Homo sapiens: one gene and its partners. The protein of the gene in region 3 interacts with the protein of the main gene of each other region in a pairwise test. Each region holds a gene or a part of one and is shown on either strand. Other genes may lie near its edges.

Region 1 (3,500 bases), on a different chromosome or scaffold from region 3:
CTGGTCTGCAGGTTGGTAAGACTGTGGGAAAAGCACAGTATTTGGGTGGGAGTGTACCGATTTTCCAGGTACAGTCTGTCACGGCTTCCCTTGGCTAGGAAAAAGAAATCCCCCGACACCTTGTGCTTCCCAGGTGAGGTGACACCCTGCCCTGCTTTGGCTCACCCTCGGTGGGCTGCATGCACTGTCCAACCAGTCCCAACGAGATGAACCAGGTATCTCAGGTGGAAATACAGAAATCACCCATCTTCTGTGTCGATCAACACTGGGAGCTGCAGACTAGAGCTGTTCCTATTTGGTTATCTTGGCCATTCAGTAAAGTTATTTAATTTAAAACATTATCTGAGATGATATTATTTCTACTTCTTGGTGTATAAAAATTGTTTTTTTAAATGAAATGATGATGATAGTTGATGAGATCTAAAAAATAAAAGGTTGATAACACATCCGAAGATTTTTTGAAAATAGAATTGGTCTGTGGGAACCACTGTTTTAGGGAATTTTGGTCATGTATAGAAATTAATGGATTATATATAAAGAAAAATTTGAAATTTGTATGTATTTGTAGACTTTAAGCAAACAGAGCCAAATCAGATCCTGTCAAAAGTTACTGATTGTGATTTATAATGAAATGAGATCTACCTATACATCATAGTGTTCTTAGAATATTAACGTACATTGTGAATAACTGCATATAGTTTCTGACTGAATATAAACCCCATCTTTAAACTTACAAATATATATAATACCTACATAAATCAAAAGTTTCAAGGTACATGGCTAGTAAAGATTAAAATGCACAATTTCTAAACTGTTTTAAAATGGTCTAATTTAAAACTACTGACTTACATAACTTTGGCTATTAATCAAAATATAACTTCAGGGATATTGAGGAAATGGTCAAGATGACATTTTCAAATAAGAAGTAGTGGGAAGTAAGAAACCTTGATGTGAGCACTGCTTCACAGTGTAAAACTGACATAAAAATTGTTAAGGAAAAAGGTATATCTTTGAAATTGAAGGTGACTAGATATGTGAATGCTGTAGTGCTGTTAACAATACATAAAGAAGGTTAAAATATATTCTATTACATGTGTTCTATGTATTCTATTACAGTGGTTCTATTACATTAAAGGTGTCTCAGAAAATTCTGCTACAATGTTCAAGTCCATTAAATTAACAAGTGACTTCTTTGCCTGGTAAGCTGTTTGTTAACATTTTGCTAGCTGTCAAAAGGACTGACAGATTATGCAGCTTTATTTAAATTCTAATAAAAATGCAAAGATCATTCAAAATAAACATATATAATTATGCACTGTGAAAAGCAGTATTGAATACTTCAGAAGAACAACACAAGAAAATTAATTTCACCCTACTGGTTTTTATGCACCTACAAGTCTCAGGTTGCAATGTCACAGATGATCTCAACTCAAGCAGGATTATTGTAAAGCTAAATTAGTTCAGGTGGTAACTTGACTGCCTCTTCCCCTTGCTAATAACTTTGCCTATTAACTTGTGACTGTGAAATGATTTAAATAGTATGGCCTCCATGAACTGATGATCAGTTATTAAATAAAAATGGTTTGCCCTACAGGGTAACAATGGTTCCCAAGAAAATGACTTTTTTGACCCCAAATATGGCATATGGTATCCAATCTAAAAAAGTTCACTGGGTTAATTCTACTTTTGTTCTAAACTATTAACATGATCAATAACTACATATTGTTTAGTTCCCAAAAGAAAGTGTTTTGTTTTGTTTCATGTGTTTGAAGTATTATTACAAGATCATTTAACTTACTTTTGAACTTTTTCATTGGCCACTTGGGAGGCCTCTCTGGCATGTTGAAGTTGTAATTCCATATTTGCTCGCTCTGTCAGAGCTTGTTGCAGTTGAGTAGCCAGTTCCTCATTTTGTTGTTGAGTGATGGAAACAATGTTCTCTCTGTTTTTTAAAGCTTCTTCATATGTACTAAGGGTATAGTTAAACTGATCCTTCAGATTTTCTTCTTGAGATAAAGATTTGTGTAAACTGAGAAAATATTAAAAAAAATTTAAAGATAAGTAATGTAAACTGAGTGATCTATGATCTATTTAACAAAAACCTCCATTTAGAATCTCTAGTTCTAAAAATCAATAAATACTTAAATGAGCAAATGAAAATAATTTTTATGTCACAACATTATAATTGATAATTTCTCTGCTTCTAGGCTGAAAGCTACCCAGACAAATGATTATGCTACCAAAGCATACAAAAAGATGCTGCAAGATGTTAATTTAATTATATCAGTGTAAATATTACATTCAATTTTCTTTAAAAGGAATAGCAGAGAACTGGAAAATAAAGTATCTCTAGGCAAATAAAAGAATGTAATAAGCTGAAAGAAGTGAGAAGAGAATGGGCATTGGTTTAGGAGATCGAGGGTCTATTCTGCCAAGCACTTAATGAGAATGGATGAGGTTTATGCAAACACTGACCAGCCTTCTACATAGCATTTTCTACTTGATCTTCTACTTGTCACAGTTGAGATATAAATGAATTTAAAATCACTAGTCAGATTGCACAGAAATAAAATGTATTCATATATACATGTGTATATTTTTTTTTGGCTAATGAATCTCTTAACGAATACATCTACTCATTAAGTCATACAGAGAAATAGCATATAAATTAAGACTAAATGAATGCAGAAGAAAATGCAGACAAATAGAATCCTAAAATGCTAAAGGTCAAATCTTTGATATGTCATTACACCTACCACCTGAGGTTATTTTGAAATGGCACCAAGCACCTCACTCAATTAAATAAAGACATTTTGAAAATATAAATATTTAATAAGAGAAATTTAAACTCCACACAGGAGATGTTCTTTTTTATTAAATATCATTTCAGTATATGCATACAAAGGAAATGTCGATTGGAGACATTTGAAGTAAAACAACTTAACTATATAATATAGATTGATAATGGGAAGGAAAGCAATATCATTATTAAACCTGCAAAAAGCTAGTTAGTGAACTTTGGCATTGTCCTAATATCTAGCCTGATACTTTCTTTAAAACTGTTCAAAGTAATTATAAATTTCCTCTTTTAGTTTAAGTTATCTATAAGCCTTTACAGTATGCTTATTTTGGAGAAGGCGTCCCATAGAACTAGGATGGATATGAAACAAGGACAGTCAGCATACCAAATGAAACCACTTCAGGATTCAAACCCCTAAGAATACGGACTGTTACTAAGCGCTGGTCAACTGGTTACTACACAGAAAATTAGAATAGTGTGTAGTGCCACATTTGTAGAGTGCAAAAAATACCTTTTTTCATGGTTTGCACATTGTTATTAATCTAACTATCCCTACTTCATTTCTTCTCAGATTTTTCTACCAACCCATATGCTTAAAGGCTGTCTCTTGCCCATTTTACTATTTTTTCTGTGTCCTCTCACTTTCTGCATTCTTGTCTGTTCCAAGTTCCAATTTTCTTCAGCTCACCCTCTTTATCTC
Region 2 (3,500 bases), on a different chromosome or scaffold from region 3:
CCCAGGTCTGACACCCCATTCCAGACTGTCTTTCCTCCAAAGTAATGAGAAAAGCACTGGACAAGAAAATACAGCCCAGGTTCTGTTTACCTCTGACACTGGCTAGCTATGGGATTCTGGAAAAGTCACCCTAGCCCAAGTCTCATCATCTCTCATCTAGACCACTGCCTACTAACTGGTCTCCCCACATCATCTCTGGCCTCCCTCCAATGTGGTTTGCATACAAAAATGTGACCCATCACTCCTCTAAATAAAGATCAAATTTCTAAAGCAACCCATGAGGCTCTGCTTGATCTAGCCGTTAACAAATTCTCTCACCTCAATTCTATCACCTTGTCTCTCTTGAATTATTTTCTCCCTCCCTTCCAGTTACACCGACCGGCCTTCTCTCAGTTCCTCAGAAGCATGATGATTTCCTTGTTTGGAAAGGCTTTTCTGTAGCCACTCTCTCTGCTTCTCCTCCTCTTCCCTTCACCAAATTAACTCCTTATCATCTTTCAGGTTTCAGCTCAAGGGTTACTACTGCCTTGTCTAGAAGCTTTCCCAGGGCTCCAGACCAGGTTGGGTCTCCCCTTTTTTTTTTTTTTTTTTAGACGGAGTCCCGATCTGTTGTACAGGCTGGAGTGCAATGGCCTGATCTTGGCTCACTGCAACCTCTGCCTCCCAGGGACAAGTGATTCTCCCACCTCAGCCTCCCGAGTAGCTAGGACTACAGGCACGCACCACCACGCCCAGCTATTTTTTGTAGTTTTAGTAGAGATAGGGTTTCAGTATGTTGCCCAGGCTGGTCTTGAACTCCTGGCTTCAAATGATCCACCCACCTCAGTCTTCCAAAGTGCTGGGATTACAGGTGTGAGCCACCGCACCCAGCTGGGTCTCATTTTTAATATACTTGTTTAAAGAACTACCCTTTCTGGCCGGGCACGGTGGCTCACACCTGTAATCCCAGCACTTTGGCAGGCTGAGGTGGGCGGATCACGAGGTCAGGAGATCGAGACCATCCTGGCGAACACGGTGAAACCCTGTCTCTACTAAAAATACAAAAAAATTAGCCGGGCGTGGTGGCGGGTGCCTGTAGTCCCAACTACTCTGGAGGCTGGAGCAGGAGAATGGCATGAACCCGGGGGGCGGAGCTTACAGTGAGAGGAGATCGCACCACTACTGCACTCCAGCCTGGGTGACAGAGCGAGACTCCGTCTCAAAAAAAAAAAAAAAAAAAAGAACTACTCCTTTCTTCTGAGCACTTAGTCCATTAATAATTGTATTCATTGATGAGATTATTTAATTGTCTCCCTGCTCCAGTAGACTGTAAGCTCAGGGGAGAACTGGATCTGTGTCTATTCTTAATTATCACGGATGTCTTCACACTCAGCCCAGTACTTAGCACAGAGAAGGTACTAAAAAGATAATTTCACAGTACCTGAAACCTCGTGAGCACTGTGTAAGTATGTGTTGAATCTGAGTTGTCTTCACAGGATTCTTTTAAGGGTGAAATGAGTTCGAGTGTAATGACCATGAAAGTGCTTTGAAGTCTGGAAAGTACTGTCTAAATGGAAGATTTCACTGTAACTTCACAGTCATTGGTTTAAAACCTTGCTAACGTTTCTGGAAGTCTAAAGAAATCACTTTCCTGTGCACATGTTTCTTTCCCATCTTAGAGATTACTTCAGACTGGAGTGATTTGGAAGCAGGAGAGCCTGAGTTCAAATATCATCTCTTTCTTTACTGTCTGGGTGATCGTAGGCACCAAGCTCTTCCTCACTCAGAGCTCTCACATATATGGTTCCTTCTGCCTGGGATGCTCTTTTCTCTCTCATACGTGGCTGGCTTTTGATCATCCTTCAGGTGTCTGCTTAAACTGGCCAGGCATGGTGACTCCCACCTGTAATTTCAGCACTTCGGGAAGTCGAAATGGGAGGATCTCTTGAGCCCAGGAATTCAAGATCAGCCTGGGCAACCTAGCAAGACCTCATCTCTTAAAACAAAAAAATTAGGCGGTCATGGTGGCATGCACTTATAGTAGTCCCAGCTACTTGGGAGACTGAGGTGGGAGGATTGCTTGAGCCCAGCAGGTGGAGGCTGCAGTGAGCTAGGATTTTGGTTACTGTGTTCTGTTCATTTCCTTCACAGCACTCATGTTTTGTCTATTTATTGTATGCCTACTTCACTTGATTTTAAGCTTCTTGGAGTCAGGGATCATGTCTTAGTGTGCATTGAGCATCATGCATTGTGATAGAGACTCAATCAATTAGGTGAATATATGTTTGGTTGAATGAATGAATGAAGTTGCCTCCTCTTCAAATTCCTCATCTGATGATTATTTCACAGGGTTGTTAGCAGACTTAGACCACCGATGCAAAGGGACTAGCACAATGTTGGGCAAATAACAGGTCTTCAATAAATACAGATTCCCTTTTCTTCCCCTGGGCACCTCACAGCCACAACCTTTGACTCAGCTGTGACTGCTGTATGCTGCATTCCTTCACTTTCATCACCAAGTCCTGCAAAATCTTCTCCCATAATATCTCCCAGATCTGCCGTTAACCCAGTGTAAGCCTGTTGCCTCACCCTTCAGACAAGTACCACTGGTCTGTAAGTGGCTGTCCTTTCCCAATTCCATACACTAGTAAAATCACCCTAAGGGATAGTATCACTTCCTTTATGTCTCCACCACCTCCACTTCACCCTATGCCTCTCCAGGTAGGCACTGTCCATAAGAGGCAGGCCTGAACTTACGCACTCACTGGTCACAAGCTTAGTTCTGACTGTAATCTCATGGGCTAGTAGTAGCCCATTCTTCTCACCGTACTCTCTCTCTCTAGCCTCACAGTTTATTCTCCCAAGTATGCCTTTTCCTTTAGGACTGATGCTTGTTTAGATGCTGGTTCAGCTGGGCCTTGGAGTCTTCATTCTTTGGCATTGCCTCCTTGAGTGAGAACTGGATGTTGAAAATTTTAAATTTCCAATATTTGTCAATGCCCTGTCCCATTTTTTTCCCATCTAAACAATCTTAGTTAAGAGTCATTTGCTTCTTCAAATGTGAGAGGACTTCAGCCTAAACCTCATATTTTATAGACAAAGCCTGGAGGGAAGATGTGACTTGCCATGTTCACATGAGCCAGGATCAGGGACTAGGCCTCGTGCTCCTAATCTAGTAGTTTCCCATTTTAGTTTGCACTTTGACCTTCCATCAGGCAAAGTTACTTCCTTCTTCTTGTAGACTGCTTCCTCTTCATCTCTTTTCCTTTAATTCAGTGATGTAGGGTTACAACTAGAATAAAAGCATGCTTACATATGAACTAGGTCTGACAGGAAGGACACAGAGGAGCAGAGGGTTGGCTTATGAGGGGTTCGTGTCCTTACCTCTTAACCCTTTGTTGATGCCATTTCTGCTGCAGCACCTATCACACCAATGCTTCGCCCCCAGAGCACGCCTCCTACCCTGCAGCACACTGACGTAGTGGCTTTCTATTCTGTTCTGACAAATTTCCCCAGGAGTC
Region 3 (3,500 bases):
GCCAAGGCAGGTGGGTCACCCGAGGTCAGGAGATCAAGACCAGCCTGGCTAACATGGTGAAACCTCATTTCTACTAAAAATACAAAAAATTAGCCGGCGTGGTGGCGCGTGCCTGTAATCTCAGCTACTCCGGAGGCTGGGACAGGAGAACTGCTTGAACCCGGGAGGCAGAGGTTGCAGTGAGCCGAGATTGTGCCACTGCACTCCAGCTTGGGCAACAAGAGCAAAACTCTGTCTCGAAAAAACAAAAACCCTGCCTCATACGCAGTACTCCCATCCTCTCTTCCTGATGTATTTTTCTCCATTGAACTTATTATCTAAAACAGGGGTCAGCAAACTATAGTTCACAGGCCCAATACAGCCTACTGCTTGTTTTTGTAAATAAAGTTTTATTGTAACACAGCCATGCCCATTTGTTTGTATAGTGTCTATGGCTGCTTTCGGCTACGAGCCCAGCTGAATGGTTGTAGCAGCGACCACTGCCCTGCAATGCTTCCAATACCAACCAGTCCTTTAGAGAAAAAGTTTGCTGACCCTTGATTTAAAATACTAGAATGTAGACTCCACGGAGGCAGAGATTTTGTCAGTTTTGTTCACTGCCTTATCCTCAACACCAAGTAACACTACCTGGCACTTGAGGGACTCTCAAATATCTGCTGAATAAACAGACAAACCAACCAACCAAGTGAGACGACTCCATGTCTTTGTGCACGCTGTTTCCTCAGCCCTTCCTCCTCCTCTGCGCATCCCTCATGGCTCAGCTCAGAGGTTCTCTCTAACGTGAAGCATTCCCTGTCCCCTCCAGCTCCCCCACAAGCAAACAGTCCCTTCTTCCTTTATGCGCCTCTTCTTTTAGCACTTCTATATTGAGATGATCTTTCTACCTGCTGTTCTCTCCTGCTAGACTAGGAGAGATCTTGCTTGGAAACAAGATCTCATCTTGTGTCAGAATCACAAATGCTTGGCACATCGAGCTCCCAAATGACTGCTCACTGAACATGTGGGTAGATGGATAAAGGAATGTACCAATGTCTGAGACTAAGTGAATGACCTGGTGTTTTTGGGTCATACGATCTACTTCCTAAAGGTGGTGAAGAGAGACAGGTGGCTCAGAGGATCAAGAGCCACCTCTGCAAAGTGCTCTGAGCTCTTAAAAGCTCTCGAAAAACCGGCTGGGCGCAGTGGCTCATGCCTGTAATCCCAGCACTTTGGGAGGCCAAGGTGGGTGGATCATAAGGTCAGGAGTTCCAGACCAGTCTGGCCAACATGGTGATACCCTGTCTCTACTAAAAATACAAAAAATTAGCTGGGCGTGGTGGTGTGCGCCTGTAGTCCCAGCTACTTGGGAGGCTGAGGCAGGAGAATCGCGTGAACCCGGGAGGCAGAGGTTGCAATGAGCCGAGATCATGCCATTGCACTCTAGCCCAGGTGACAGTGAGAGATTCCGTCTCAAAAAAAAAAAGCTCTGGAAAAACCAAGACACCTTGCTTACTGGCTACCTGTGCTCCCCAAGATACCTCCTACACCAGCTATCCCTGGGCCTGACACCTCCTATACTGGCTTCCCTGTGGCAACTCCCTGTCAATCCATACCTCATACTCAATGGCGAGGTCTGTGTGGTCATCAATATCCACCTTGGCCATCACCACCTTCCCGTGCTGCTTGGCCACCATCTTCTCTAACCTCGGCCCCAGGATCTTGCAGGGTCCACACCACCTCAAAAGGCGAGAAAGGAAGCATCCAGTCAGTCAAAAGAGCGCTCAGCATCCCCTACTGGCTTCCCAGACCTGCATCTTTCCAAGGAATCTTTTGCCCTTATTATCTCTGTTTACCATGTTTAAAAATTAACACACCAAATGGTAATGCCAGGAGATTCTGCACATGGGAAATCTTCACAGATCCCAGACTTTTAAAACACAGGCCTCATCAGAAGACTCATAATAAAAGTGACTCATTTCAGTATATCTCAGATAAATATACTGTCATATAAAAGGATATGGGATTGGAAGTTAAAAGGTTCAAACAGAGGCTTCTCACCAACCAGCTGATTATTCTGGGGCCCTAGTTTCCTTTTTTTCTTTTTTTGAGACGGAGTCTCGCTCTATCCCCCAGGCTGGAGTGCAGTGGCGCGATCTCGGCTCACTGCAAGCTCCGCCTCCCTGGTTTACGCCATTCTCCTGCCTCAGCTTCCTCAGTAGCTGGGACTACAGGTGCCTGCCAACACGCCCAGCTAATTTTTTGTATTTTTTAGTAGAGACGGGGTTTCACCGTGTTAGCCAGGATGGTCTCGATCTCCTGACCTCGTGATCCGCCTGTCTCGGCCTCCCAAAGTGCTGGGATTACAGGCATGAGCCACCGCGCCCGGCCTGGGCCCTAGTTTCTTCATCTGAAAAAGAGAGATTATGGCTCTCAAAGCTATTAGGAGAGATCAACTAAGGCAATGTGGGTAAACATGCATTGGAAGCTGTGGGGATATTTCAAACACCATGTGGACTCAGAACTAAAAGGAGGGGAACCAATGGCCTGGAGCGTCTACAACGCACCAGTCCCTGGCTCACTTTCTCTGCTTTTACCAAACACACCCCTCAACTCTGCAAAGAGAACACACCTTCCAAAGAAACTGAAGCCCATACGAGTTAAGAAACCTGTGCAAGATTAGAGAAGCACAGCTGGGATCGATCACAACCCAAAGCTGTGTTGAAAGTGTTTTCTTTGGCCGGGTGCGGTGACCCACGCCTATAATTCCAGCACTTTGGGAGGCCGAGGCAGGCGGATCACCTGAGGTCAGGAGTTCAAGATCAGCCTGGCCAACATGGTAAAACCTCGTCTCTACTAAAAATACAAAGATTAGCCAGGAGTGGTGGTGTGCGCCTGTAATCCCAGCTTCTAGGAAGGCTGAGGCAGGAGAATCACTTTAACCTGGGAGGCAGAGGTTGAAGTGAGCTGAGATTGTGCCACTGCACTCCAGCCTGGGCGACAGAGACTCTGTCTCAAAAAAAAAAAAAAAAAAAAAAGAGAAAGTGTTTTATTTCACCCACAGGCTACTCTGATCCCACAGCCCCTGAGTTGACCATTATCACTGCCCTGATCATAGGTATTCCCCTCTCGCTGGGGAAGCTCATCCAGGACAGGCCTGGTGCTGTCATCTCTATGTATGTGGCACCAAGGAAAGTGCCTGGCACTGAATGAACAACTCACACCACCCCACTTCCTTACTGAACAAAATGAGGCATTATCCCATTTATTGTTCATTTCGGAAGGCCTCTCTGGAATGCTCACTACACCAGGAGGCCAAGACAGTTCCACCTTTCACAAACCCCTGGCTGACAACTCCTATTTTATTCTCAGCACTTACTTATTTATTTTTGAGATGGAGTCTCACTCTGTTGCCCAGGCTGGAGTGCAATGGCGCGATCTCGGCTCACTGCAACTTCCGCCTCCCGGGTTCAAGCAATTCTCCTGCCTCAGCCTCCTGAGTAGCAGGTGTGGTGGTGCACACC
Region 4 (3,500 bases), on a different chromosome or scaffold from region 3:
CCTCCACACGCACCTCTGCCGCTTCTGCTGCTGTTGTTGGCACTTCTGCTGCAGCTGCTGGTGGCGCTGGGCAGCAGCTGCTAGGAGCTCCTCAGCCTTCCTGTGCTCTTCCTGAAACAGCTGCCTGGGGGGCCCAGTAGGGGGTGGTCAGCACCGGCCACTCCCTCCTCCCACCCTCTTCCCCTCCACATCTTACACTGTGGCTGCAGCCTCCTGGCTGCGGAGAAAGAGTCCCTCATCAAGGGTGGAGGGGCCCTCAGCCCCACACAGGGAGCACAGCTGATGCTTCACGTCTTCCAGTGTCGCCTTGACCAGCTTCTCTGCAGCACAAAGGGGCAGGTGAGCACATGAAGGCACGTGAGGTCAGATATGGGCCATCCACCTTCCCTGGTCTCACCTTCCTTGAGCAGCTGCTCCTTGCTGCTGTCCAGGGCACAAATCTCCTTTGCCAGCCGCTCTGGCATCTGAGGGGCAGAAAAGAGGCCTGTCCACTCCTCTTGGCTTTCCCCCATGCCTCAAAGAAGGCTATCTGGATCTTGTTTCATACTTACTCACTATGCCTCACTTCCAACAACTCTGCCCCTCTGTGCACACCAGCTACAGTACAGCCTCAGGGCCATGGCACTGGCCATTCCCTCCCTGTGCACTTCTGTCATCCCACATCTCTGCGGTACTGCAGTGGGGATGCTCATGGATTGTTATTTACAACAGATAAACCTGCAAGCACTGTGAGTCTTGGCTGTTTTCTGGAGGATCAGGTACCGGTTTAGCTCTGCAGCTCCTCCCCACTCCCCTCTGTCCTGGTGTGACCTCCTCACTGAGCCCTTCCTTCCTGACACTCACTGTCTATTTTCTTGTTCAGTGCCTAGGATCCTCCTGGGGGACAAACACGGGCTGCTTATCCTCGTTGTCTCCTTTGTGCCCGTGATGGTCCCAGACACATCCACGGACAGTGATGGAAGACTTGACCTTGGTCTCATCAGAGATCCCCCTGACCACTGAGCAGCAGGGTCACAAGGAGGTGACAAGGGACTGGATTCAGGCAATGTCGATCTTAGCACCACCAGGGCTTGCTTGGCGACTGGTTGTGGCAGGTGAGAGGAAGAAGTGACCGTTTGGGCCTGGTGCTGCTAGGGAAGATGTGGAAGGGGGAGGAGTGGCTTTGAGGGACTCACGTGGAAGTCCCAGAGGTCCTTGTGCTGGCCCATCAGATCTTCCAGCTGTTCCTCGAATGCCAACCTGGGAACCAACCACAGGCATGAGGGGATATGGGCTGAAATCACCACCTTCACAGCCTGTCCAAGTCTGTGGTTCTTCAGGCAGATTTTGGGGTGCTTTGCCCATGGTCTCTGCTCCACTGGGAACATCTTCACCACCTTGAATCTCCATGGCTCAGTGTAGCCAGCTTTTCTAACCCCCATCTTTGACATTATATCCCAACTACTGGCCATCCAAACCCCCTGCCTCAGATGCTAAGGTTTACCTCAGCTGTCTCTGTTTGTTCTTCTCTTCTTCAATCTGCAAGTTCAGGGCAGAAATTCTCTCCTTGCACTCCTGCAACATGGTGTGCTTCCTGGGAGAGGCGAGGCAGCCCTCAGCCATGTTCTCTTAAGCCCCAGGAGGGCACTGGGCTGGGGCTTCTGCCTCCCTCTATTGAGGCTATTTTTTCCCTCTACATTAAGGTCCTTCTCTGTAACATGTGGTAAGTAGGGAGTGACATGACCATTTGCCCCCTGGAAGTATTGTTGTCAGGTTAAGAGAGATTAATGTGGACATGGTTAAGTGAGCAAATGCACACACATCTTAGTATCATCTCGTTTTCCCAAAGAGCTGAAATCTCAGTGTGCCAGGGCCTGGGGCCTCTGGTAACAAATGAGCTAAATCAGGAGGTGGAGAAATGGATGGACAAATCGATGGGTGGATGAAAAGATAATGGATGAATGGAGAGAGAATGGACAAATGGTTGGCTCAATGCCTAAATGAACAGACAGATGAGTGAATAGACATCCAAGGAGTATGACAAAGAGTAAAAGGCAAAAAATAAAAACCAGCTGAAGAAATTTAATTGACAATTTAGCAAATGAATGTCTTGCCATTGAGAGAGTTTCCCTTAACACTACTGCCAGCTGTTGGAGCCGAAGGGGAAAGACATTCTTTGGACTCTCCATTGTTTAGAGGGAAACAATGAGAGCTGTGGGTCTCAGATTCATCTTCCTGCCTCTTTCTGCTCTACCAGAATAAAGAGGTAGTGCAGAGTTAGGCTCAGCTGGAAGCTCTTACCTGTGTGCCTCACTTTCCTTTTCCTGGCAATGCAGCCGGAGGATCCTCAGGGTCTCTGTAGGGAGAGCAACAGGGCCCTATGAGAACCTGTCAAGGTATTGGGTTTTGGCAGGGGGAACACAGCCAGATCATGTCAGGTCTGTGGACACCTGATTGAGCTTTAACATTTACTACATGTCTGGTGGAAGCCACAGGAGAGAGGCAAGCTGGGACAGGTTTCAAAAGGCTTCAGCTGCCATAGGGAGAGTGGGCTTCTGTGGGTTGGCAAAGGCACAAGCCTGGAGACAGGGGAGCGGCAAATACCTTGTTTTTTGCTCAAGATCTCCTTCAGGTGTACTTTCTCTCCATGCACTAGAAAACAGTGACACATTTTGGCATCAGGGACTATGCACTGCACCCTCAGGGATGGGGCTTGCTCACGGTCACATGGGAAGCTGGGCACAGCCTTGGCCCCAACCCAAATGTGAACCCTTGAGGTGAGCCCCTCCCTACCCTCTGGTGCCCACATTCCTTGTAAGCACCAAAGGGCCTTCACATTTACAGAGGGTGGCTGTGAGGGCCCTGGAGGATGCTCGTGCTTTTACATGGGGAGGAGAGAAAAAATACCAACACCCACGAAGTGGGATAAGGGCTATAAAGAAACACATCAAATAGGATGGGGCATGTGACCAGATGGAGGCAGGGTGCCATCTTTAAATGGGATGATTGGGGAATGCCAGTCATCCTGTCTGGGGACATTCTAACTTAGAGCTGATGATGTGAGGAAAGAGGAACCTGTATTATCTGAGGAAGCACAGACAGCGTCTGGCAAAAGCCCTGAGGTGGGAATGAGGTTGGAGGGTGTTTCCTGAACACTCCCACAAGCAGAGAGGAGAGGGGGAGATTGGCAGGACATGAGGCTAGAGAGGGTACAGGACCCTTGGCCATGGCAAGGATGCTGATTATCTGGAATACAGGGTTAGGGGAGGCTTAAGACACTGTGGGGACCTCTGGGTGACCCCCGGCTCTCTTACGCGAGTCCAGTTCCTTCTGCAGGGCCTCACAGATGGTCCGGGCCTCTCCTAGGTCTTTATTGGCTTTCTTTTTTGCTTCACCAAAGAGCAGAAAAACATTGTGTGAGTGCAGCCTCTATTCTCTTCCCAACAGTGACATTTCTCATTTGCCTTCAGGTAAATCTATAGTGGCCTAGATTTTATAGAGTAGGAAACGAGGCTTCCAGC
Region 5 (3,500 bases), on a different chromosome or scaffold from region 3:
TGAGTACCTGCAGTATACTGATCAATATGCTAAGTAGAGGGATACAGATGAAGTATATGGCAGCCCTCACATTTAAGGAATTTATAGCTGTATTGGGTAGCCAAGATCTAATAGGCAAAAAATAAAGAATAATGGAAGAACTTTTTTTAAAGGCTCTTTGAAAGCAAGAAGTATGCCTTATTTGTCTGTCACTCCAGGTATCTAGTACAATAATAGGCCCTCAATAAAGATTTATTAAGCTCTCTATAAAAGTAAATGCCATTTATAGTAGACTCAGTAAGAATTTGCCAAATGAAAAAAATGTTCATAAGTGTATGGTAGAGTCTGTCAATGGTGAAAAACAAGTGCTGGATGAGCATGGCAACACATGCCGAGGGGGTAGGACTTGTGTCTGGTGTCGAGGAGGCAGGACAGAAGGTGAGAGCAGTGCTAGCAGAGGCACAATGCCAGGAATAAACATGTGTTTTGCTTGGTGCTGTGAAGGCAGCTGTCTGAGTAAAGCACAGTATTTCTGCTGAGACATTCTGAGACACAGTTAACTAGGTACATTGGAACATGGGAACCATATATTGGAGGTTAGGAAAAGTTCAAGGTTAGTCCGCATTAGGATTCCTTTGTAGATTGTTTAGAAAGACAAAAGTAAGAACAGTTGATCTAACCCCACTGTATTAATGATAGATTTCCAGAGAAGAATTCAAACTGGCTGGTTTTATCCTTTTTTTAAGCCACTGAATAATGTGAAGAAAACTGAACCCTTGAAATATGCCCATGTGCACATAAATGCATAATAAGCATTTTGTTTGAAGTGTCAGAGGGTTTGTGGAATCTTCCCACCTTTTGAAGCTCATCCTTGGACCCCTAGTTAAGAACCCTTGATCCAGAAGCAAAAAAAACAGTTAAAGGGCTCTTGTAATTAATTGAAGAGAATCTAAATTAAAAACAGAGGCAGGGAAGTTAGAGTAAAAGATAGCATATTCCAATTGTGTGCATTTCAAAGGAAGAAACTTGGTGACAGGTTAAATATAAAGAAGCCCTACAGGATTTTAATGTTGAGGAGCTTAGGTGAATGAATGACGATGTTATCTGTAATAGGGGGAGATGGGAAAGGATAGCATAGAATTGCTGATCTTTCATGTCTACATTGACCCGTAATTTGGGATACTTGCTGTTTGTCATTTACTCTTTGCCATCTTCCAGAAAGCAAAGAAGTAGGTCTGGAGGAGATGGCCATTGTATAGATTTTGCTTTGTACAATTATATTTATAAAGCTGAGTCAGGCACTAGCAATCAAGTATATTTGCAGGTATGTTAAATTTGCTGTGAAACTTGAAATTCATGGGGTTTTTTCAGGTTTTAGAGCAATCTTGGCTGAACCTAAAAATAAAGCATCTGAATCCTCTGAACAAGATTATTATAGTAATATGAGGCAAGAAGCTTTGGGACATGAACCTAGAGTAAATATGTTTCCATTTGGTAAGTAGGCAACCTTTACTTTTAATAGTATAATGTAGTATATGCAATCTAATTTGGGTTTTAAAGAATACTCTGTTATTGGGCATCTATAAATTTCACCTAGTGAATAAAAATCTTAAATGTAGTTTTTTTATTCCTAAAATGTGGATTATGACTCCTAAAGTTCTTAATATTTAACACTTATTTTGTTTAACTGATTTCTAATTATAGTTTTCTCTGTTAAGTTACGCATTCCTCATATTAGAAACTATTACCACTGCCACTTTTTTGGGTGAGCTTCTGCCTCTATATAGCTGACCAAAAACTTAAAAAGACATATGTAGAGATCCTCTCCGTATGAGTCCTAAAATTTTGTTCCAGAACTACTGCTACTTTAAAATTAGGGCTACAGAAAGGAGAGGAATGGTAAAAGTAGAAGCTCTAATAGAAAAAGGGGAAAATGGGTAATGAAAGTAAGGCCTGTGAATGTTATTTGACGTAAACATTCAGGTAAAATACTTACCATATTTTTCAGTTTTGCATACTAAACTTCTTTCTGTGAAATTAGACTATGCATTTCTTCTTATATTTCTGCATTAAAGGTAGGGGAGTGGGGAGAGTTGTCTCTTCTTGTCATTAGTCCCATCGGTAGTTCTGATGACCAGAAGCGTACTACAAAATACAGTGCCTTTATTCAGTACAATGGACTCTGTTTTCTAGTATTTAAAATGTTAAGCGAATTGTTGGCTGTGTAGAAATCTAAAGATTTACTTTTTTTTATATTGTCGGAGAACAACAATCTGAATTTTCAAGTTTTGACAAGAATGATAGCCGAGGCCAGGAAGCAATCTCCAAACGCTTGTCAGTTGTATCAAGAGTTCCTTTCACTGAAGAACAGCTTTTCAGCATTTTTGATATAGTACCAGGATTGGAATATTGTGAAGTTCAACGAGATCCTTATTCAAATTATGGTAAAATAATGTTCACATTAAAAAATATATATATATGTATATATACACACACACACACACACACACACACACACACACACACACAGAGTTTTGTTAAAATGGCTTTTCTCTAGTGGCACTTTTATGTCAAGTACTGCTCATGTGACAGGAATTTTATCTTTCCTTTTTCTCTACTTTAGAATTCAAAATATGGTGATACCTTAATAAACAAAGCCCTGGAAATATATCTTCTTTTTACAAAATTGTTCACTGTAAAATATATTTTAACTCCCACAAAATATAACATTCTGTATTCCAGTTGCATAACAAAAAATACCTCTGGATAGAGCCTCTGTTTCTATGTACTCTTTTGGTTAATGCTAGACAAAGTTACGAAACTCACAAAATTTCCTCCTCATTCATCCCTAGATCTCTTTCTCTTAAATTTATACCCCTCCTTCCTTTCATTCCAAGCATCTAAATGCCCTGCTTCTCTCCTGCTTCTTCCAATTCTCAATGGAAGCAAGTCTCCAATATCAGCCATTTGAACTTATTAATTAGTTAATTGATTAAACCCATTATCTAACATTAGCTAACCCATCTTTGTGTTTTAAGCTTTTGATTTTATTAAGGCTCTTTGTTAATGGAGGCATTGTGGCATAATGGGAAAGTCTGGCATTCCATTTTGCATAGAATCGGGTACAAATCCCAGCAGTGACATGTAGCTTTGAGACCTTGGCAACTTGCTTATCCCCTCTGAGCCTCTCTTTCCTCGTATGTAAAATGGGATCATTGATACCTTCTTTGCCAGGGTTAGGTAAGAATTAGAGATAATATATGTAAAATAACTTAATGCAAGTTCTGGCATGTAATAGGGCACTCAGTAAATCTAAGGGGTTTTTTTTTCTTTGTTAGTGAGGGGTGGTAGAGAGAAATCATACTTGGTTGGCATCTCTTCCAGTTTTGTAAGGATACCTGATTTAGTCCTTTTAGAGTGGCATGGCTATTGACATAGAAGTAGTGACGTGAGTTTGGTCATGTGGACCAACAGGACTAAGGTAACTCCACCCTTCATACAGACACCCCCACATACTCACT
Region 6 (2,786 bases), on a different chromosome or scaffold from region 3:
GCCCTGGTTTGGACCAGGGGAGGAGACTAATATGGGGTCTTGGTGCTATTCCAGGCCCAGGGCCAGAGAGGAGGCCTCTAATGAGTCTGGGTTCTGGTCAGCAGATGAGACCTCTACAGCGTCTTCTTTCTGGACTGGAGAAGAGACAAGTGTCAGATCATGGCCCAGGGAAGAGTCCAATACCAGGTCCAGGCACAGGGCTAAACATCAGACTAATCCCAGGTCCAGGCCCAGATCCAAGCAAGAAGCCTATGTTGATTCCTGGTCTGGATCTGAGGATGAGGCCAGCAACCCATTCTCCTTCTGGGTTGGAGAAAATACCAATAACTTGTTCAGGCCCAGAGTCAGGGAGGAGGCAAATATCAGGTCCAAGCTCAGGACAAATAGAGAAGATTGTTTTGAATCTGAGTCTGAAGATGAGTTCTATAAGCAGTCCTGGGTTTTGCCTGGAGAAGAGGCCAATAGTAGATTCAGGCACAGAGACAAAGAAGATCCTAATACTGCCTTGAAACTCAGGGCCCAGAAAGATGTTGACAGTGATAGGGTCAAACAAGAACCCAGGTTTGAGGAGGAAGTCATTATTGGGTCCTGGTTCTGGGCAGAAAAAGAGGCCAGTTTGGAGGGTGGAGCTTCAGCAATCTGTGAATCTGAGCCAGGAACTGAGGAGGGGGCCATTGGCGGATCCGCGTACTGGGCTGAGGAAAAGTCCAGTTTGGGGGCTGTGGCCAGAGAAGAGGCCAAGCCGGAGTCTGAAGAAGAGGCCATATTTGGGTCCTGGTTCTGGGACAGAGATGAGGCCTGCTTTGACCTAAATCCCTGTCCTGTGTACAAGGTCAGTGATAGGTTCAGAGATGCAGCTGAGGAGCTTAATGCATCCTCCAGGCCCCAAACCTGGGACGAGGTCACTGTTGAATTCAAACCTGGTCTTTTTCATGGGGTTGGCTTCCGATCCACAAGCCCCTTTGGAATTCCCGAAGAGGCTTCTGAAATGCTTGAGGCAAAGCCCAAGAACCTGGAACTTAGCCCAGAAGGAGAAGAGCAGGAATCTTTGCTTCAGCCTGATCAGCCTAGTCCTGAGTTCACATTTCAGTATGATCCTTCCTACCGGTCAGTCCGGGAAATTCGAGAGCATCTTAGGGCCAGGGAGAGTGCAGAGTCTGAGAGTTGGTCCTGCAGCTGCATACAATGTGAGCTGAAAATTGGTTCTGAAGAGTTTGAAGAATTCCTTTTATTAATGGACAAAATTCGGGATCCTTTTATTCATGAAATATCTAAAATTGCAATGGGTATGAGAAGTGCTTCTCAATTTACCCGAGATTTCATTCGAGATTCAGGTGTTGTCTCACTTATTGAAACCTTGCTTAATTATCCATCCTCTAGAGTTAGGACAAGTTTTTTGGAAAATATGATTCACATGGCTCCACCTTATCCAAATCTAAACATGATTGAGACATTCATATGTCAAGTGTGTGAGGAAACCCTTGCACATAGTGTGGATTCCCTTGAGCAGCTGACTGGAATAAGGATGCTTAGACACCTCACTATGACTATTGACTATCACACACTGATTGCCAACTATATGTCCGGGTTTCTCTCCTTATTAACCACAGCCAATGCGAGAACGAAGTTTCACGTTCTGAAAATGCTATTGAATTTGTCTGAAAATCCTGCTGTGGCAAAAAAACTATTCAGTGCCAAAGCTCTTTCAATATTTGTGGGTCTCTTTAACATAGAAGAGACAAATGATAATATTCAAATTGTTATTAAAATGTTTCAGAATATCAGTAACATTATAAAAAGTGGAAAGATGTCCTTAATTGATGATGATTTCAGTCTTGAGCCGCTTATTTCTGCATTTCGTGAATTTGAGGAGTTAGCTAAGCAACTACAAGCCCAAATAGACAACCAAAATGATCCTGAGGTGGGACAACAAAGTTAATATGATTAACCACCTGCCGCTGATCAGCCTTATGTTCCCAAAGAGCCCTGAGTAGTGCTTTGGTGTTCACAGTCTGTTTTTTTGTTGTAACTTATATTTTTTAATGCTGATGTTAACTTTGTCAAACTCTTGTTTTGAGCTGGATCATTTTGTGGATGCCAAATGAATATCAAAACTGAAAACACATTTGTTGATATTTGTCTTGCTGTCCAGATTGCGGTATTTTTCAGTATTAAGTTTTCAATGAACTGTGTCACCTAAGTAAGCTACCCTGCTATTCGTTGTTTAAATATATGGTTCTCTATTTGAGTCTGTGTTTTCAATAAAGTTCTATGTTAAAATTGGCATAAGTGACCCTTCTTCAGTTTAAGAACCATGTACAGATAAATCGTGTGCACTTACAAACATAGGTAATTATTAGTATGACAAACATGCGCTTATTAGAAAATTCTGTTCTTGAGTTAAGAAGGGAGAGATTATTGTGGGCCCTGATACTTGAGGAATGTTTCCGAGAAGAGGGACCCACTTAAATTGGTCAGGATAGAACAAATTGGTCAGGATAGGAGAGCAAGACAACTTGCCCGCCTGCTTGCCCAATTATGAGCCTTCCCAACAAGCAACCTAAAATTAATACTTCTTATAGGACCCATTTAAATTACCATCTTAGCCCTGGGATTTGCCTAAGGGTAGGATAAGACAAATCATTAGGTTGCTCTTGGAAGTGGGCAGTGGTGGTTTGAAGAAAAGTGTGTAATTGAATAATCTGTTCTAGTAGCATGGATGAACCCAGTCTGCTTGAAACAAGTAAAAGGAGTTTGATGAGAAATGCAGTTAGAAAGTTGGGAAG
Region 7 (2,853 bases), on a different chromosome or scaffold from region 3:
TCAATATTTAAATCTTAACCTATTTTTATCAATGATTACTTGAGAAAATCAAGTGTAATTCAAGCTGAACTCTTTCAAATTGTAGGACATGTTTATTTTTAAGCCTAAATGTTATGTCTCTCTAGCCTAGCTATATAAAATAGCCTTTCTCTCAAAGCCAATGCTAGGGCAAGAAAATGGACAGGGGACTAGATTAAAAGAACTGAGAGAAACATAAAAAAAAAAAATGCAATTGAAACCTGATTGGCTCTAGATCCAAATAAAAATCTACACACTTTGGAATATGGGCTGGATATGGCTGACATTACAGAATTATTCATTTTATTAGGTATTATAATGGTATTGTGGTTATAAAGGAGGATGTCCTCAATCTTAGAAAATGTAGGCTGAAATATTTAGGGGCGAAGTACTGTGACCTCGTCACCTTATTTTCAAATGTTTCAGCAAAAAGTTATATATTTAAATAGAAAAAGCAAATGTGGCACAATATTAACAACTCATGAATTTAACTGAAGAGTTTATTATACTTTCAACTTTTCTGCAGATGTAACATTTTTTAAATAAAAAGTTGAGAATAAAAAAATCACAAAAATAGTTTTGCTGAAGAAAATACCACACATTCCTTTTTACTATAATATTTAATATAATAATATACACTTATACATTGGTATTATTTACACTTCATTAAAAAAAACCCATTCAACCTGAAATTAACTACCTTAAACACACTATTTAACTTTCAGTGCTAATGTATTAATTTCTTAAATATAAATCAAAATAGCTCAATATCTAAATTACTGATAACTAGATGCAGATGTAAGGATCATGAATCAATACTTCCATTAAGTTAAAAATATCAATAATTTTTTGCAACATTTCTTCTTTGTTTTTCTTCTTTGTCTAGAATAGTCTGTTTTAAGCTCAAAGTAGCATCTTGAAATCCAGGATTTAAGTCTAAGACCTTCTTGAAATCTTCCAAAGCATCATCAAAATATCCTGTACCAGAACCCAAAAAATGGAAAAGAGAAAAGAAACCGAGTATTTCTATATATTATTCATGGAAAAGCTTTGATACATGTACTTTTGCTTTTATATTTATGAGCTTTCAGTCACTTCTAGTAAAGGAATCTTTTTATCTTAATAATATAGAGATGTGTATATCAAAGTAATTTTGTGTGCCCTTAGGGAATAATACACCTAAAATTAGCTATGGGTTTATTTATTGAGATTTAACAGGTAAATATTATCAATCATCTTAAAATTTTAATAAAACTGTATCACCTGTTTTACATAATTGCAGTAAAATTAAGAAACGGGAACTAATTTTCTTTTTGACACTTTAAATGAAGAAACACTACCTATGGTCCCTTTAATCCAAGAATCTAAACTTCACTTTCTATTGTCTTGTGTGTCTTCAAAGATTTTAACTCAGAAAAGTTTCACAGGTGAACATCTGAATTGCCCTCATTTCACAGCTGGGAATGCACAAGCACAAAGTAATGGGGTCACCCCTGCTCCTGCGCCCAGGTCCAATTCCCACCCCAGTGCTCTGCTGTGATCTATAACGCCTATCAAAAGCCTAAAATAAACTCAGGGACACTTCCTTTGTTCCAAGCTCTAAACCTAAATTTCACAGAACTTTAAAATTTGATTACCACGTTAGTTTTACAACATTTGAAAGCTCTGAAATAACAGAATACAGTCAATGACAAAACTCAAAAAGAAAAAAAATTCTTACCCAGCCTATACAGTATCAACCCTCTGTTGTAATATGGAACTTCAAAATTGGGTTGGACTTCTATGGCAGATGTGTAGTCATCCATGGCTTCATAAAAATCAACCCTGAAGTACTTGATTTGCCCCCTGTTGTTATATGCAGTAGCCAAATCCTCAGGGCTGCATTTGCTTTAAACAAAAAGTTCACATTAAAAACACCGTGTTACCAAATTCCTCTCATTTCCACTTTCATTCTCTTTTGGGTATTGTCAAACTTCACAGCCTATAACATGCAGCATCAACACTGAAAATCCAAGCTGAAGAAAAAACGTACAAATAAAGAGCTAAAATCAATTTTTGTTTAACCCTGTTATCTACTTTTGTAGGGTTATACCACTGCAATGTCAACCTGAAAAGCATACTAACTTTACAGTGTGTTCACTGCCAATTTGTTCTGCTGAATATAACATTAAAATGATTGTTCATTTTTCTAAGCACACACCAGCAGGGCAAAGAAGACAGAACAGATAAATACTAAGCAAAGAGGGAAAGCCAGCCCAAAGCCCGAGTTTGCTATGGATATGTCACAATGTGAATCAATTTCATTCTCAAATTTTTAAGTGATCTTAAAACAATAAGATTTGAAATCATTTTCCACCAATAAAAAACTAAAGTTAACGCTAAGTGAAAATTCAACATGCTACGATCCCCAGGAAGTTATCTCTGGGGACAGAGTTGCCCTCCCTCCAGCCTCAGCTGGCATCCTCCCCAATGCCAGGCTGGCTTCCTGCTAGGAGGGTGGGCTCCTTTAGACCCCCTCAGGGCTCCAGTCAATTTTGATGTCCTTTGTGCAGAACTGGCTCTGCACCTGAGGGAACTAGAGGTTGCCCAAAGAGCTTTAAATTAGCAGCCATTCCTGGGCTGTACAGCCAGGTAGCTCTGACCAGCCACCAGCTCAACAGGTCACAGCCCCTGGCTGCCTTGAACCTTTCTCTGCACAGGACAAATAGTCTGCACAGAGAACATTAGTGCCTCTGCTCTGAGTCAGGGATGATTCTGTTTCCCTTTCTTTTTTCCCAAAGCAATTCTCAAATTAGAACCAAACAGAGAATTCATCTGTCACTTCTTTGTAATACC

The links.
Region 1: the proteins of TXN2 (region 3) and MIPOL1 interact in binary tests that used the Homo sapiens proteins (3 or more experiments, as listed by UniProt).
Region 2: the proteins of TXN2 (region 3) and ZMYND12 interact in binary tests that used the Homo sapiens proteins (3 or more experiments, as listed by UniProt).
Region 4: the proteins of TXN2 (region 3) and SYCE1 interact in binary tests that used the Homo sapiens proteins (3 or more experiments, as listed by UniProt).
Region 5: the proteins of TXN2 (region 3) and RBM45 interact in binary tests that used the Homo sapiens proteins (3 or more experiments, as listed by UniProt).
Region 6: the proteins of TXN2 (region 3) and GPRASP2 interact in binary tests that used the Homo sapiens proteins (3 or more experiments, as listed by UniProt).
Region 7: the proteins of TXN2 (region 3) and TTC32 interact in binary tests that used the Homo sapiens proteins (3 or more experiments, as listed by UniProt).

The regions. Positions count from the first base shown.
Region 1 is NC_000014.9:37,498,437-37,501,936, reverse strand, and holds part of MIPOL1 (mirror-image polydactyly gene 1 protein), read right to left. Parts: intron 2,030-3,500; coding exon 1,799-2,029; intron 1-1,798.
Region 2 is NC_000001.11:42,442,523-42,446,022, reverse strand, and holds part of ZMYND12 (zinc finger MYND domain-containing protein 12), read left to right. Parts: intron 1-3,500. UniProt on the Homo sapiens protein: Required for sperm flagellum function and male fertility.
Region 3 is NC_000022.11:36,475,141-36,478,640, forward strand, and holds part of TXN2 (thioredoxin, mitochondrial precursor), read right to left. Parts: intron 1,717-3,500; coding exon 1,593-1,716; intron 1-1,592.
Region 4 is NC_000010.11:133,555,584-133,559,083, forward strand, and holds part of SYCE1 (synaptonemal complex central element protein 1), read right to left. Parts: intron 3,369-3,500; coding exon 3,294-3,368; intron 2,632-3,293; coding exon 2,584-2,631; intron 2,336-2,583; coding exon 2,281-2,335; intron 1,574-2,280; coding exon 1,484-1,573; intron 1,240-1,483; coding exon 1,176-1,239; intron 465-1,175; coding exon 398-464; intron 321-397; coding exon 197-320; intron 125-196; coding exon 14-124; intron 1-13. UniProt on the Homo sapiens protein: Major component of the transverse central element of synaptonemal complexes (SCS), formed between homologous chromosomes during meiotic prophase. Requires SYCP1 in order to be incorporated into the central element.
Region 5 is NC_000002.12:178,118,937-178,122,436, forward strand, and holds part of RBM45 (RNA-binding protein 45), read left to right. Parts: intron 1-1,350; coding exon 1,351-1,473; intron 1,474-2,237; coding exon of another isoform or gene 2,238-2,243; coding exon 2,244-2,423; intron 2,424-3,500. UniProt on the Homo sapiens protein: RNA-binding protein with binding specificity for poly(C). May play an important role in neural development.
Region 6 is NC_000023.11:102,715,448-102,718,233, forward strand, and holds the end of GPRASP2 (G-protein coupled receptor-associated sorting protein 2), read left to right. Parts: coding exon 1-1,939; 3' UTR 1,940-2,286; downstream 2,287-2,786. Other genes in the region: ARMCX5-GPRASP2 (G-protein coupled receptor-associated sorting protein 2), read left to right, coding at 1-1,939. UniProt on the Homo sapiens protein: May play a role in regulation of a variety of G-protein coupled receptors.
Region 7 is NC_000002.12:19,896,131-19,898,983, forward strand, and holds the end of TTC32 (tetratricopeptide repeat protein 32), read right to left. Parts: intron 1,906-2,853; coding exon 1,739-1,905; intron 997-1,738; coding exon 857-996; 3' UTR 501-856; downstream 1-500.